Linked DNA regions of Homo sapiens. The protein of the gene in region 2 interacts with the protein of the main gene of each other region in a biochemical or structural test. Each region holds a gene or a part of one and is shown on either strand. Other genes may lie near its edges. The genes, in order: PTPRT, DSCAM, PSG7 and PSG9.

The links.
Region 1: the proteins of DSCAM (region 2) and PTPRT interact in a biophysical measurement, tested with the Homo sapiens proteins (one large-scale study listed by IntAct).
Region 3: the proteins of DSCAM (region 2) and PSG7 interact in a biophysical measurement, tested with the Homo sapiens proteins (one large-scale study listed by IntAct).
Region 4: the proteins of DSCAM (region 2) and PSG9 interact in a biophysical measurement, tested with the Homo sapiens proteins (one large-scale study listed by IntAct).

The regions. Positions count from the first base shown.
Region 1 is NC_000020.11:42,101,894-42,105,460, reverse strand, and holds part of PTPRT (receptor-type tyrosine-protein phosphatase T isoform 2 precursor), read left to right. Parts: intron 1-742; coding exon 743-892; intron 893-3,163; coding exon 3,164-3,337; intron 3,338-3,567. UniProt on the Homo sapiens protein: May be involved in both signal transduction and cellular adhesion in the CNS.
Region 2 is NC_000021.9:40,333,126-40,336,692, forward strand, and holds part of DSCAM (cell adhesion molecule DSCAM isoform CHD2-42 precursor), read right to left. Parts: intron 1-3,567. UniProt on the Homo sapiens protein: Cell adhesion molecule that plays a role in neuronal self-avoidance. Promotes repulsion between specific neuronal processes of either the same cell or the same subtype of cells.
Region 3 is NC_000019.10:42,934,364-42,938,702, forward strand, and holds the start of PSG7 (pregnancy-specific beta-1-glycoprotein 7 isoform 1 precursor), read right to left. Parts: upstream 2,845-4,339; 5' UTR 2,714-2,844; coding exon 2,650-2,713; intron 1,407-2,649; coding exon 1,041-1,406; intron 1-1,040.
Region 4 is NC_000019.10:43,259,495-43,263,061, forward strand, and holds part of PSG9 (pregnancy-specific beta-1-glycoprotein 9 isoform 1 precursor), read right to left. Parts: intron 2,645-3,567; coding exon 2,366-2,644; intron 1-2,365. UniProt on the Homo sapiens protein: Binds to the small latent transforming growth factor-beta complex, consisting of the N-terminal TGFB1 latency-associated peptide (LAP) and the mature form of TGFB1, thereby leading to the activation of TGFB1.

The DNA.
Region 1 (3,567 bases), on a different chromosome or scaffold from region 2:
AGGTATGGAAAAGAGGGAGTGGAGTTTCAGGAGGAGAGTACAGCAGGTACAAAGAATTGAGATAGGAGAAGATATGACACGTTTTGGGAGCAGATCGTGAGACAAAGATTTGCCGGCAAATAATTTGCTTGGAAGGTAATCCCAAGACACAGTGGCTGGTGAATGGGAAAGTGAGGCAGAGCAGGGAAGGAAACAAACAAAGGCTACTTTAACAAGTTGTTAAACACTGTAGACAACTGGAACCCAATTCTGCTGGCGAACTCTGAGACACATGCGTGTCCAAGTGATTCCACCTAAAGGGAGAGATTTCTTAGATTTCTATCCTCAACTCTCCATCTGTCATTGCTTGAGGGTTCCTTTCCACACAGCCCAAGTATCCCCTCTGCCTTCAGCAGACAATCACAGGTGTTTGCAGCAAGCAGCCTTCCTCAGGTAAAGGTGAAAGCTGAGGGGACATGGGCTGGACACCAAGAGCGCCTGCTGACAGCATGTCTAGAAGTTTCTCATTTTATCATGACTATGCTATTACATCTTCTATCAGAAACAAGACCCACCATAGCTCAGGTGATCATTAGGAAACATGGAAATTTGGCCCTTTGGGTTACAGTATAAAAAGTAAGGATCCTGTAATATATTGATAAATCATGTCTATTCTTCATAGCCACAACACTAAATGTGGACAGCTAATTCCCAGGCCACTGTTCTTACCTGGCACCCCATTCCCTCTCTTCTGACTTTGCAGGAGCAATATGTGTTTGTGCACGATGCCATCCTGGAAGCGTGCCTCTGTGGCAACACTGCCATCCCTGTGTGTGAGTTCCGTTCTCTCTACTACAATATCAGCAGGCTGGACCCCCAGACAAACTCCAGCCAAATCAAAGATGAATTTCAGGTATGAGCAAATCCCAGGCTCGGTGACCATCTTAGTCAGTTTGGGTTGTTATAACAAATTTCCATAGATTGGGTGGTTTAAATGACAGACACTTATTCATTACATTTCTGGAGGCTGAGAAGCCCAGCATCAAGCTTCCAGTAAATCCAGTGTCTGGGGAGGGCTCACTTCCTGACTTGCAGATAGCCGTCTTCTCGTTGCATATTCACGTGGTGGAAAGTAGAAGCAGCAAGCTCTCACATTTCTTCTTTTTTTTACTTTTTATAGAGATAGGATCTCACTATGTTGCCCAGGATGGTCTTCAACTCCTGGGCTCAAGGAATCCTCCCACCTTGGTCTCCCAAATTGCTGGGATTACAGGCAGGAGCCACCACACCTGGCCCTACATGTTTCTTCTTATAAGAGCACTAATCCCGTTCATGAGGGTTCTATGCTCATGATCGAAACGTCTTCCAAAGTCCCAACCTCCTAATACCATCACATTGGGGGCTAAGATTACGACATGGATTTTGGGAGGGATGAAAACATTTAGTCCGTAACAGTAACCCAACCAACTTCAGTGGCTATGTGCACATTTGTGGGGTTTTCTTTGGGACAACTGATCTATGCACTTTCAGTGTCTGCTTCTCTAGGAAGCTGCAGAATCTATTCCAGAACACAAAATGCACAGCCATGAGCAACTACACACTCACTCAGGGATTGCTGGTACTTGTCTTTAACTGTGAATATGTTTTTTAACTGAGGTCTTATTCAGTTCTAGTCCAAGTTGTGAATGGAGACAAATTTATACAAACAGGTGTGAATTTCATGCTCCTTCATCCCTGGAGGGACTCAGGTCCTCTCAGTAATTTTTCAGTAGACTCTTACTGCTAAAAGTGTGGTCTGCAGCCTGACCAACATGGTGAAACCCTGTCTCTACTAAAAATACAAAACAAGTGAGCCAGGCATGGTGGCATGCACCTGTAATCCCAGCTACTCAGGAGGCTGAGGCAGGAGACTTGCTTGAACCTGGGAGGCGGAGGTTGCAGTGAGCCGAGATTGTGCCACTGCACTCCAGCCTGGGCAACAGAGTGAGACTCCATCTCAAAAACATAAAAAATAAAATAAATAAAATTTTAAAACCTGCAGTCTGGAGACCAGCAGCATTGGCTTCACCTGGGAACTTGTTATAAATGCAGAATCTCGGACCTGGCCCAGACATAGTGAATGAGAGCCTGCAAGTTAACAAGATCTCTGAGTGATTTGTATGCATGTTAAACTTTGAGAAGTACTGTCCTAGAACATAGCTCAGGTATACCAGATCCACACCTGGAAGCCCATGCGGTCAGAGCTGTGGCAACATTGATTGGTCTAGGGAGCCTGGACATGAATCACTAAGTAAGATAAAGCCAGAGTCCAGCCCTTTATCCCAAGACCAGTGTCAGAATTACACCTGGGCAACAGGAGCTGAGAACCAGGTATGAGAAAGCAAGGAAGCTCCAGGTCTTGCTTCAAGTCAGTGGGCAAATGCCAGGCCCATTGTTCCACGGGCAGATATCCCAGGCAGGCCAATACCTTAGCAATCCCTAAAACAAATAGCCATTATTGATCTGAAGTAGAGACAGAGAGCTGAATGAGGGAAGGATGGAGGGTACAGAACACTGGTCATTGCACGTAACATCTAGTCCATTGGCTAGAGCAGTTCAGCTCTGGCCTCAAACTTGCAAGATGTACTCGGCAAAGTCCAAACACAGCAATTTCCCAGACCTGTTAGGGTTTGCCCCTCGGAGGTCTCTCATCTATCCTGAGCAGGTCATCTAGGCATCCTTCCATACTCAGACAGCTTTCTCTCTGAGAAGAGGGCTGGTAAATCATTTCCCCCATTCCATGACAACGCAAGTGATGTTTAGCCCTCAGTAGGGATTCCCTACCCCCACCCCTCTGTATGCCCTCCTGGCTGGCCCACCCTTTAAAGCAGCACTGGCTGAGCTGAACGACTTAGTTCATCTGGTTGGCAGGTACTATGAGGCTGTGTCTGAGCCTGTGTGTGGATGCGCTGCTTCTGCAGCCTTGGCGTTTTGAAGGTGTCACACAGCTCACACACCCTATAGCAGGGAGCAGGAGAGGACAGAACATCACCGTGGAAGAGAAATGGGTCCCGGGAAAGGGAGAGTGGGGCTGCGCTTAGAGGGTGGAAATAGGCGAGTTAGGCTGAGTTGGAACATTACTGTCTCTTTTGCTCAGGGGCAGCCAAATGAGCAGGGCCTATCTATTCACCTTTGTGCCCCACAGACCCTCAACATTGTGACACCCCGTGTGCGGCCCGAGGACTGCAGCATTGGGCTCCTGCCCCGGAACCATGATAAGAATCGAAGTATGGACGTGCTGCCTCTGGACCGCTGCCTGCCCTTCCTTATCTCAGTGGACGGAGAATCCAGCAATTACATCAACGCAGCACTGATGGATGTAAGCCGAGCCCGGGCAGAAAGCTCCTAGCTGGCATTCTAGGGCAAATATTCTTCCTGAGGTGGAGGTGGCTGGACCTCAGGGCCCTGACCCCACCAGCCAGCCCCCCCTGCTTCTGATCTACTAGTCCCAAGGACCTTTGTTCCCCTGCAGGCTCTGGTCCAAACCTAGACACAAGGTGGGCTCTTGGCTCCTTTTCTCATACAAAGAGCCTGGAAAGAATAGACCAG
Region 2 (3,567 bases):
AGTGGAGCTGCATTTACATGAACAAAATAAGAAAGTCTCTTTCAATCCTAATCCACAGGGAAAGCCAAAATTCTAAGTCTTTTCCTAAAATTTAGCTAATTTCTTATCTCCCTCCCCTAATACTTGGTAACTGAAAATAGTAAAGGTTAATTTTTAAAAAGCCTTGATAAACTACAATCCTGACCATTGGAGTATAATTTACTTTATATATTAATATTTCATTTAAAAACATTTTACTGATCGATCGATTGATTGATTGAGACAGAGTCTTCCCTGTCACCCAGGATGGAGTGCAGTGGTGCTATCTTGGCTCACTGCAAACTCCGCCTCCTGGGTTCAAGCCATCCTCCCTCCTCAGCCACCTGAGTATCTAGGATTACAGGTGTGTGCCACCATGCCTGGCTAATTTTTGTATTTTTAGTAGAGACCAGGTTTTGCCACGTTGGCCAGGCTGATCTCAAACTCCTGGCCTCAAGTGATCCTCCTGCCTCGGTCTCCCAAAGTGCTGAGGTTAAAATATTTTAAAATGTAAACTTAAATGTTCAGAAGTCATTTTATTTAAGACCCTTCTAAGTTCTGAGTAAAGGCTAAGATTGCGAATGGTGTAAAACTGTTACTGTGTTTTGGAAGTAGTTCACCACAGTCTTGCACTCCTGGCCTCAAGCCATTCTTCTGCCTGAGTCTCCGGAGTAGCTGGAGCTACAGGTGCGTACCACATCACACCTAGGCCTCCCAAGTAGCTGGGATTACAGCAGTGAGCCTCTGCACCTGGCTGCTTAAGCAAAGGTAATTTGGGTTCTCGCACCTTGCAACCAATGGGGTCATAGTCAATACATGGATCTGTGCCAATCTGGGAAATCTAAAAATAGGTAAACTTACATTTCAAACAGTCCTTGTTTGAATTTTTGTCAGACTTTATTTTCAGATATTTGGTGAAGGGTTCTAATGTGAGCCTGACTGGGGGCTGGGGAAGCCTGTACATATGAAGTTAAAATCTGCGGTGTAGTGCACAAAGTCCCCTGAGGGTCCTGTTCAGGCCTTGGTGTTGAACATCATCTATTCACTGATGTCACCAGATCTGCAGCCTGGATTCCTGAACTCTACTCTCCCATATCTAATTTCCTACTGACAGCATCCACTTCTTTGTTTAGTGTGTATTTCAACCTCAACACATCGATAACTAGACTCCTAATCGCCTTCCTCAAACGGCTCCACTGCATCTTCTGCTGACTCAGTAGAAAGCAATGCCATTCTTCCTGATATTCAGGCCAGAAGCCTGACCTGATCCTTGATGTCTTTATTTTCCTCACACCTGTATCCAACCACTAGGAAAACCGACTGAATAGACCTTCGAAATAGATCCGGAGTCTGTCTTCTACCCCCAACCTCCTCTGCTCTCCCCCTGGTCCAAGCCACCATCATCTCTCACCTGGATTCACTTTCCAACAGGTCATTCTACTTGCCCCCTTTCCCCGAATAGACCATTCTCAGCACAGGAATCAGATGCGTCCTTCTTCTTTTTAGAGATGGGGTCTCACTATGTTGCCCAGGCTGGAGTGCAGTGTCTATTCACAGGTGCAAATATAGTGCACCACAACCACAACCTCAAACTACTAGACTGGAAGTATTCTCCTGTCTCAGCCTCTGGAGTATCTGGGACTACGGGCTCGTCCCACCTTGCCTGGCTAAAAGCATCCTTTTAAAACCTTAGTCTGGCCATGTGACTTTTCTGTTTAAAGTCATCCAATAAAGCCCCCATCTCACTCAGCAGAAAACCCCACGTCCTGAAAACCGAAGTCCTGATCTAGTAAGTCCCCCGTGAAAAGGTTCTGCTCCTTCTGACTCAGGGCCTTTTAGTGTTTTCTTGTTCACTTGGCTCCCACCACACCAGCCTCTCTGTTATTCCTCAAGCTTGCCAGGCAAACTCTAGACACCGTGGTTGTATCTCTTCCCTTTACCTAGGATGTCCCTTCCCCAGGTATCCATGAGCTGTCTTGAACCCCTTCACATCTTTGCTCAAAATCTCACTTTTTCCAGGCAGCTTTTCCCGACTATTCTGAAAAATTTGGCAAGCCCCAAATCCCAACAACTGCCATTTCTCTCCAGGCAATAAAATACCACATAAAATAATATTTTCCTTCTTTTGTTTGCAAGTACTTGCAAAGGAGCTGACAAGTTTTATACTATATGATAAGTATTCAGAAGAAAAGAAGCTCCTGAAGAAAAAATTATTCAATAGAATTATTTCCTAAAATCATAAATATATTGTTTATAAGAGACAATAAATTATTCTTTTGGCCATAAGCTAGTTTGAGTTGGTTTCTGTCACTTCAAAAGGATTAAGATGAATACATTCATTTATACTGATCTGGCAAATTTAAAGAATAAATGTTAATGATTCAAAGGGCTTTCGTTTAAATCTATGTCTCCTAAAAATTACATTAAAGTATTATACCTATTTATCCAATGGTCATACTTCTGGAAATTTTTCTCGAAAGAAATAATCTTAAAATCAGACAAAGGCCAATGCATAAAGAAGTTCATTTGATGCCTCATTTGTAATGGTCAAACATTAAAAATAAACTAAAATTTTAGCACTGTATTAGATGTTTTCAAAATGTAGCTCACAGACCTGTAGGGATCCCTGAGACAATTTTAGGTGATCTGTAAGAAGAAAATCGTTTTCATGACAATGCTGAGGTGCTGTTTGCCTTTCTCATGGTGTTGACATTTGCACTGTTGGAGCAAAAGCCATGGTGGGTGAGACTGCTGGGCGTTACCATGAATCCCAGCAGGGACACTAACAGGATGACTATTCATTGTACTGTTTACCGATGCATACTGTGAGTTGGTTTTTTAAAAATGCCAGATTCACTTACAGACACTTGACGAAGCAGGAAACATAACAGTTTTATTACATCTTTACCCTAAAGCTCACGTTATTTTTAATGTTCTATGTCCTGTGTAATAAAATGGGAAGAAGGCACAGTGTTTCCTCCACCTCCTGAGCAGCACGGCTATTTTCAAGCAGAGTATGTCTGTGCTTGCTTGAGTTGCAAATTCGACCAGCTGCTTTTCTTCATGGAATTCCATTTCTTTCTTAAAAGAATGGCTACCTAAAAACGATGGTTATGCGGTCTTTTCTATTTGTCAAACAATTTCTTACAGATAAATGAGCCCATCACTCCTACAATTACAATTGATGGTGTTTATTATAAATAATAAAATTGAATCTTTCAAGAAAGAATAGAATTTTAGAAAACTTGCATCCATCAGCATGAACTTGACAGTTTACTTGAAGACTTTCTGATGAGATCATGGTAATGTTAGTAGTTGTGATATTTTGATATTGTATAACAAATTGTATCAACATTTGGAAGATCTGTGTAACACAGTGAACCAATCATTTCCAAATGATCAACTTTTTATGTTACAAAATCATGTGTGGGTAAAACATTCCTTCCAAGGGTATGATAGACCAATGAATTTTAAGATGACAGAGTACAGAAAATGTGTTGATATGGCATCTGACTATTGCAATGAACCATTAAGATACTGCCATGTTTT
Region 3 (4,339 bases), on a different chromosome or scaffold from region 2:
CCAGTAAGCCCTCACTTCTGGTGGAGGAGAGGATGGGCCTGTGGCTGCAGACAGACCTCATGTGACCCTGATCTCCCCTTTGTGTTTGTGTGACTCTGGCTCAGTGACTGTGCTTTCCTGTGACTCAGTTTTCTCTCAATCAAATAAGCTAAATGGCAAATGGACTGTGGCTTTTCATGCTATCTGTGAATAAATGTTAAATTATTCACAGTCACCTGACCTAATGCGTAGCACTGTGGAAATGTTCACCAAACAGCATTTATTATTAATTTGCTTCCATGAGAAAGCACCTTTACGTCAGATCCCTGTGGACAAGCTGCTACCTGGTACATCTTCTCTCTTCTGTTTCTGCTTCTGGGGATATTAGACTTTCTATGGAGTGTCCTAGGCCTCCTAAGGCAGTTGGCTGATGGCCTACAAAGCTTGTCTTTCTGTCCTCTCCACTCTGAGTGTCAGGTGAAGAAAGCTCTGTCCTTGCCCAGATGAGGCTCTGAGGGCTGAGCCCTGGCTGGTGAACAGCTGCAGGAGACACAGTCCTCAGACAGCTGGAAAATTCTTAGTCCCAGTAAGCCCTGCCCAAGAAACCATAACCCAGTCCTGGCACAGGCTCCTCAGCTTTATCTGGAGCAAGGATTTAGGGACAGGGGTCTGGGGTTGAGGCTTCTAGGGCTGAGCTTCTCTGAGGGTCTCAGGGGGCCCCTCAGGCCAAGCCCTACTCAGTTTTCCAGGGTCTTTCTCAGGGTCAAATTTATGAAGAGGGCATGAGGTGCTTGGCTGAGACTGATCTCCTCCTGCTGAGTCCCCCCATCAGACTGTCCTTCCTCTGCAGCAAGTTTCTGCAGGGTCTGGATGTGAGAAAGGAATTCTGATCTGTTGAAATTTGTCTCCTCTGTGTGTTTCCTGCAATAAATGCCCAAACCCCAGCATGGGACATAATGCAGAGAGGGACACAGGCACAGTCCAGGCCTGACAATTCTGTGTGTGTGAAGTAGAAATGACCCCTGCCCCCCAACACCCAGGGACCATGTGGAATCACTCACGGTATAAGGTGAAGGTGAAACGTCCAGTTACTCCTCCAGTCCCATCACCTCGCTTTATGATGTGTAAAGTGTAGGATCCTGTGTCTTCCTGGGTGACATTCTGGATCAGCAGGGATGCATTGGAATATACTGTTTCTCGTCCACTGTATGCAGGCCCATATTTAATTATTTGACCGTCTACTATATATGATGTAACATAATGGTAGAGGTCCCTGATTTGTCCTTTGTACCAGATGTAGCCAGTAAGATTCTGGGGCAAATTGTGGACAAGTAGAAGAACATCCTTCCCCTCGGAAACTTTTGGTGGCTGGGCTTCAATCGTGACTTGGGCTGTGGTGGGCGGGTTCCAGAAGTTTAAAAGTGATGCTAGGAGGTGGAGAGAGCATCAGTCAATATTGAGACCTATGTGTTGGGTTGAAAAGATGGGCCCCTGGGTCCTGAGAAGGTCTCTTCAATCCTCAGCCTTGAAGACACACACACACACACACACACACACACACACACACACACAAACACACACACACACATATAAAAGGGGCATGTGTGTTTCTGTGTGTGTCCTACTGTCCTACTAGGTCAAGGTCAGCAGCATGACCCCCATTCCTTCAACACTCCTGACTTTGGCATTTTTCTGTTTGGAATCCTCTTCCCCAGGGGTCCGCACGGCCCCCTCCACACTGCCCTCAGGTTCTGCTCACATCAGGGCATCCTTAGACTTCTTTCCTGACACCTCCTTCAGAGAACCTGGGTCTTTCCTTTTTGACCTTTCCCTGCTCTGCTCCCTCCAGGGTTCTTGTCAACACCTGATCTCACATTCTAGATCTCTTTGCATGTCTGTCTTCCTCCCCATGACAGCATGAGCTCCGTGAGGACAGGGACTTTTGTGATCTTGGTCGCACCCCAGTGCCTGGAACAGGCTGCAGACTCCTGTAGATGTGAGAGTTCTCAGGGGCCTCCATGCCCTGGGTGTTTTTTTTCCTCCCAATTGTTGAGGTTTTTTGCTGAGGACAGTGTTTCATGCCCTGCTTATATTTTTATTTCAAGTGTCATCTGATATAGTTATTATTTTCATTTTTCAAAATGTGGTGACCCCTGAGGATTAATCAGAAAAACAGAACACTTAAGATTTTCCTACCTCTTACCAATTCCGGTTCAATGTGACTTTCCTATTTTGACCCCTGTCCCTCTCTGGTGTATTTTCCCCTATCCAGGCTCCAACAGAGCCTTCTTTCCTTTTTTTTCTTTTTTCCTTTTTTTCTTTTGGGACGGAGTCTCATACTGTCACCCAGGCTGGCATGCAGTGGTGCTATCTCGGCTAGCTGCAACTTCTGCCTCCCGGGTTCATGTGATTCTCCTGCCTCAGCCTCCTGAGTAGCTAGGATTACAGGAGCACACCACCATACCTGGTTAATTTTTTGTATTTTTAGTACAGACAGGGCTACATTGTGTTGGCCAGACTGATCTTGAACTCCTGATCTCTTGATCCACCCACCTCAGCCTCCCAAAGTGCTGGCTTCTTTTATTTTTTAGAACCCCATCCTCTCTAGGAGACCCCATCCAGTCACTCTGCTTCCTTTTCCTGTCCTCTCCCAGGAAGTTCTCTCCTCACCTGTGAGCAGGAGCCCTTTCCAGGTTATATGCTGTGTGCAGGGAGGGGCTGAGAGGGGCCCCATGGTCTCTGCTCCCTGCGTGTTCTCCTCTGTGGAGATGAGCCTAGGATCCAGAATCTTCCTGAGCACGGCTGTCAGCTGTGCTGTCCTTCCTCCTTCTGCACTGAGCCTCTTCCCGGGGCAGGAGCACTTCTCAAGCTCATGGGTGGGGTCAGGCCCAGGACACCTCTCTGTCCCCTCCTCTCTCAGTTCTGCCTCCTTGTCCCTCCTTCTGTTTTTCCTTTTGTCTGTGTTTCAGGTCCCTGGGAATTGTGGAGCCCTCTGCCTTTTTCAGCAGTGATTCTTTCACCAAACCTCAACACACACTTTGTGCAGACACACACACACACACACACACATACACACACACACACACACACAGAAGAGACACACACAGACCCACAGAGTCACACACATACCCTGCAGGTTGGGCAAGCGCAGTCCTGGGCCTCAGCCTCCTGCTCTCCGCATGGCTCTGGTTAGGGGTGCACATTCACGCCCTTTGGCCTCTTTCATCCCCATCTGGCTCTCCCCTGCAGTGCAGGAGGCTGAAGCTGCACCAGGTCCCTGTCACAGTGATGCCCCATTGTGCTGTGTGTGAACTGTGTGTTTCCTGGTGAGAGGGACCCTTCCTTTCTCTAATCGTATCTAGCTTGGCTGCAGCTTCCAAGGATGGACGTTCAGGACCTGGGTGTCCCAGAGGAAACTGTCCTTCCTAGAGGTGTGCAGGGTGAATCTCTCATGCCTCTTGGGAGGAGAGGCCTGTGCTGATTGCTCAGTGGGGGCTGTAAGTCCCATAGTCAAAGAGAGAGTTCTCGGTCACTCTTTGGCTCCCTGGGGTCTGGCGGCTGAGCTGGAGCTCAGGATTTCTCGTGTTCTTCCTGACCATCTTTGATGTCCTCTCTTATGTGCCCAGCTGATTGTCCTGTGGTCACCACACCTTCCCTGTGGTGGTGCAGGTGGCAGTGAAGAGTTACCCAGGAAACCCGCGGGACATGGCTCGTTGAGACACAGGAGGGGGAGCCTGGGACAGAGCAGGGGTTCAGAGCTGGAGAGATTCATCCTGACTTACTCCGTGGCCATGATGGGCTCAGCCCTCCATGTGCCGACATACCCAGGGGTCTGTCCTGAGGGTTTTGACCTGGCCAAGCTGCTGTGTGTAGAGGAGGAACAGGCAGTGGCCAGAGATCCTGTCTGCAGGGACGTTGCTCACGCCTGAGATGGTGGGTGGGGGTGGGTTGTGTTCTGTGTGCAAAGAGCAATAACACCCCCCTTTCCCCGCAAGCACACAGGAGAGGACTGTCTTCCCAAGGGACAGCTGGGGGTAGGTGGCCACATCCCAGATGGTGCCTGTGTGTGACCATCACACACGATCTAAGCCACCAGGGGTTCAGCGGGCAGGCAGGTCACAGGGTGCCTGGCTGATTCCCGGGGAGGCTGTGGGCCCTTAGGCAGCCGCTGATCTGTGTCAGCTCTAGGCTTCACCTGCGAAGCCCCAGAGAACAGGACAGATGGAGCAGGGGTGGGCATTTAGGGAGCAGTGACAGAAAGAGTTGATGAGGATGGAGGGAGTTCACGAGGGGAAAGCGCCCAGTGTGGCGTTGCGTGCACCAGAGCTGCCCTGGGAGATGCCTTTAGCTGGGCCCAGGG
Region 4 (3,567 bases), on a different chromosome or scaffold from region 2:
CCCCTTCCAAATTCCATCCTACTTTGCCCCCCTATATGTGATTTCTCTGCAGCTTCCATTTCTAAGGATGTTCTAGAGATGAGTAATAATGGGACTTCCCATTGTCCTGAGACCCTGAAGATACTTAGCAGCCTGGCCTGGGACTGGATGTTTCAGCAGAAATAACACAGAGGAGACCAGAGTCAAGCCTGGAGGTCAGTTCAGTCATCAGGCAGTGGAGGCTCAAGGTGGGGCAGTTTTTTGCAGGTGTTTCATGATGACTTACTTGAACCAGTGACCTCTAAACATAGAGCAGAGTGCAAGGAATGATCTAGAAAGAGTGAAGGCGACAGGCAAGAGCTGGTGGCTTTGGAGCAGAACCATGTTCTCTGTCCTGGGTTCTTTAAGTTTCCTCTCCTTCTGCAGAGGGCAGAGGAGGACCATGTGGATCTTTCCAGAAATACATGTGGACATTTGCAAATGCAGAACTGACTGGTGGAAAGTGTGGGAATGAACTGCTGGAAATCTGGTCCTCATGGACCATGTGTGTTTGATGGATATGAGACAAACTTGGAGAGAAGTTTTGCAAATATTTTCTTTCATTGGACATTCTACTCTCTGATCCCCTGGGTTCGACTACTCTAGGGACCTCATGTAAGTGGATTCCAGAGTGAATATGAGAAGAGACTGCTGGTTGCCAGGAGCTGGGAGTGGGGAGAATCAGAAATTGTTCATGGGTGTGCAGTTTCAGTTATGCAAGGTGGGGAGGTTCTAGAGATCTGCTGTAGAGCTTGATGCCTATAGTTCACACAGATTGAGTATTTCTTATGCATAAGTCTTAGGACAAAAAGTGTTTTGGATTTCTGACATTTTTTTATTCTGAAATATTTGTCATATACTTACTGGTTTAGCATCCCAAATCTGAAAGATTCAAAATCTAAAATGCTTCAGTGAGCATTTCTTTTCAGCATCAGATTAGTAGGCAAAAGTGGGAGGTGATAAGCCAAAGATATTCTTGCCCTTTTTTTTTCTCTCACCACTTTTCTAGCTTGATGATTAGTTTTTGGTCAATTCCATACTGGCCATGCTGCACTCATATATTTTTTAAAGCTTTGGGATGTGAGAAAGGCTGATTGCTATTTTCTTTGTCATCAGAACTTTCCACCTTTTCTGGTTGCATCTTTTTCTCAGTGTTTGTGTTGTGGCAGTCATTAATAAGATCCTGTCAGGTCAGATTTAGGACAGAGTTTTCTAATTCTGCAAAAAATGTTACTGGGATTCTGGTAGGGGTTGCATTGAATCTGCAACTCAATTGGGTAGTATTGTCTTTCTAACAATATTGATTCTTCCAATCCATGAAAATGAAATGTCTTTCCATATATTGATATCATCTTTAATTTCTTTCAGCAATGTTTTGTAGTTTTCAGGGTATAATCATTTGACCTTTTTGGTTAAACTTATTCCAAAATATTTTATTCCTTTTGATGTTAATGTGAATTGAAATCCTTTCCTTAACTTCCTTTCAGATTGTTCATTGTTAGTGTATAGTCTAAAGAATGATCTAGAAAGAGTGAAGGGACAGGCAAAAGCTGGTGGTTTTGGAGCAGAAACATATTCCCTATCCAGGGTTTTTTATTTTCCCTCTCCCTTTGCAGAGGGCAGGTGGCTGTTCCCTGACAGCTAGATAGACTTCACTGGAAAACATAGTGCCAGTGCTCCAGGGACCCACTTACCAGGGACTATGATCCTCTTGATTATGAGATTTGTTCCACCAGTGGCTGAGTTATGGATGAAACAGACATAGACCCTCTATATGTTTTAGTGATTTGGGGGATAAAGAACACTTGTGCTGAGTGCTGGAACTTCCCATCAATCAGCCAAGAATGCTCTGCCAGTGGGTGAGAGTCTGTGAGGCAGGAGAGATTGGGGAATTCCCCTGTATGGTAATAGATGTATGAGGAAGAAATGGTGGGTGCATCCAGGCCATGTGGAGCAAAGAGAATAATGTCACAAGCGATATTGTCAGAGGGAAGGGAAAATCCTGGTCTGTGGAAGGGCCACAGTGACCCTGTGAGCCAAGTCGCAACACTGAAGTCCCAGCCAAATCCCTGCTGTGTTCACTGATCTGGAGCCTGAGACATTCACCTGTTTCTCCCATCACAAGCTGTGGACCCAGAGTCTCCCATGACACAGCAGCCTCTTTTCTCCCATTGTTGATCAAGCCTAGGCCTACTCTGGTTTGCTTGGGGCAGAAAGTCATGGCCAGCTTTGATGTCTAGGGGTAAAGGTCTCTGTACTTGGACCTGAGAGGGACTGAGAGGCCTGGCCTCTGGCCATGTGTATTTGGGATGGCAGCCTGGCTCACAGAGGAACAGAAGATACTCACGGAGGAGATTCAGGGTGACTGGGTCACTGCGACTGGCACTCACTGGGTTCCGTATTTCACATTCATAGGGTCCTGCAATATACTTTGTGACACCAAATAGATAGAGGGTCCTGTTGGTTTTGGACAGCTGCAACCTGTGAGTCACAGGGAGGCTCTGACCATTCATCCACCATAGGTAGCTTGCGTCCAGAGTCTCAGGATCACAGATTAAGCGCACAGCCTCCATGGCCTCCCTGGGGTTTAAGTTGCTGCTGGAGATGTAGGGCTTGGGAGTCTCCACTGTGCAGAAAACAGAGAGAAGATTGCCCTGTGTGGCACCTTTGATTCCTCCAAAGGCATTTTTCAGTCAGAGTTGGCATTTCCCACCTCTCAGCCCAACCCAGTCCTTAAAAGCCCATGGCAGGTGTGTGTGTTACAAGACAGATGCATGGCAATCTGAGAGCTCAGAGATTGTGAGGCTGCCTGCTTTATGTGGGAGAAGCACAGACTTTCTTAAGTGTGAATTGAGCAGCAGCATTGGGTCATGGAAAGACACAGGACCAGCAGTCACAGCCCCTGATGCCTCTTTGAGTCCCTCCGTCTCCAACTGCCTGACTGGCCCAACTTGTGGTCCTCACTTGGAGCATGCAGTGCTGGAATCCTCTTAGTTTCAGTCTTACTTTGCCCCCTGAGGTATGTTTTCTCTGCAGCTTCCCTTGCCAAGGACATCCTAGAGATGGGTGATGGAACTTCCCATTGTCCTTAAACCCTTTGGGTATTGGAAAGCCTGGTCTGGGACTGGGTACTTCAGCAGAAATAACACAGGGGAGACCAGAGTCAAGCCGGGAGGTCAGTTAAGACATCAGGCAGTGGAGCCACAAGGTGGGGCAGTTTGCAGTTTTCCCAGGTGTCTCATAGTGACTGACTTGAGCCAGTGACCTCTAACGATAGAGCAGAGTCCAAGGAATGACCTACAAAGAGTGAAGGGGCCAGGCAGTAGCTGATAGCTTTCGACCAAGACCATGTTCCCTGTTCTGGGTCCATGATGCTCCCTTCCCCCTGTAGAGGGCAGGTGAGGACCATGTGGATCTTTCTAGAAATACATGTGGATGTTTGCAAATGCAGAACTGACTGGTGGAAAGGGTGAACATGAACAGATGATGGAAGTCTGGCCCTCAAGGACCATATGCGTTTGGTGGATATTAGACCAATATTTGGGAAGA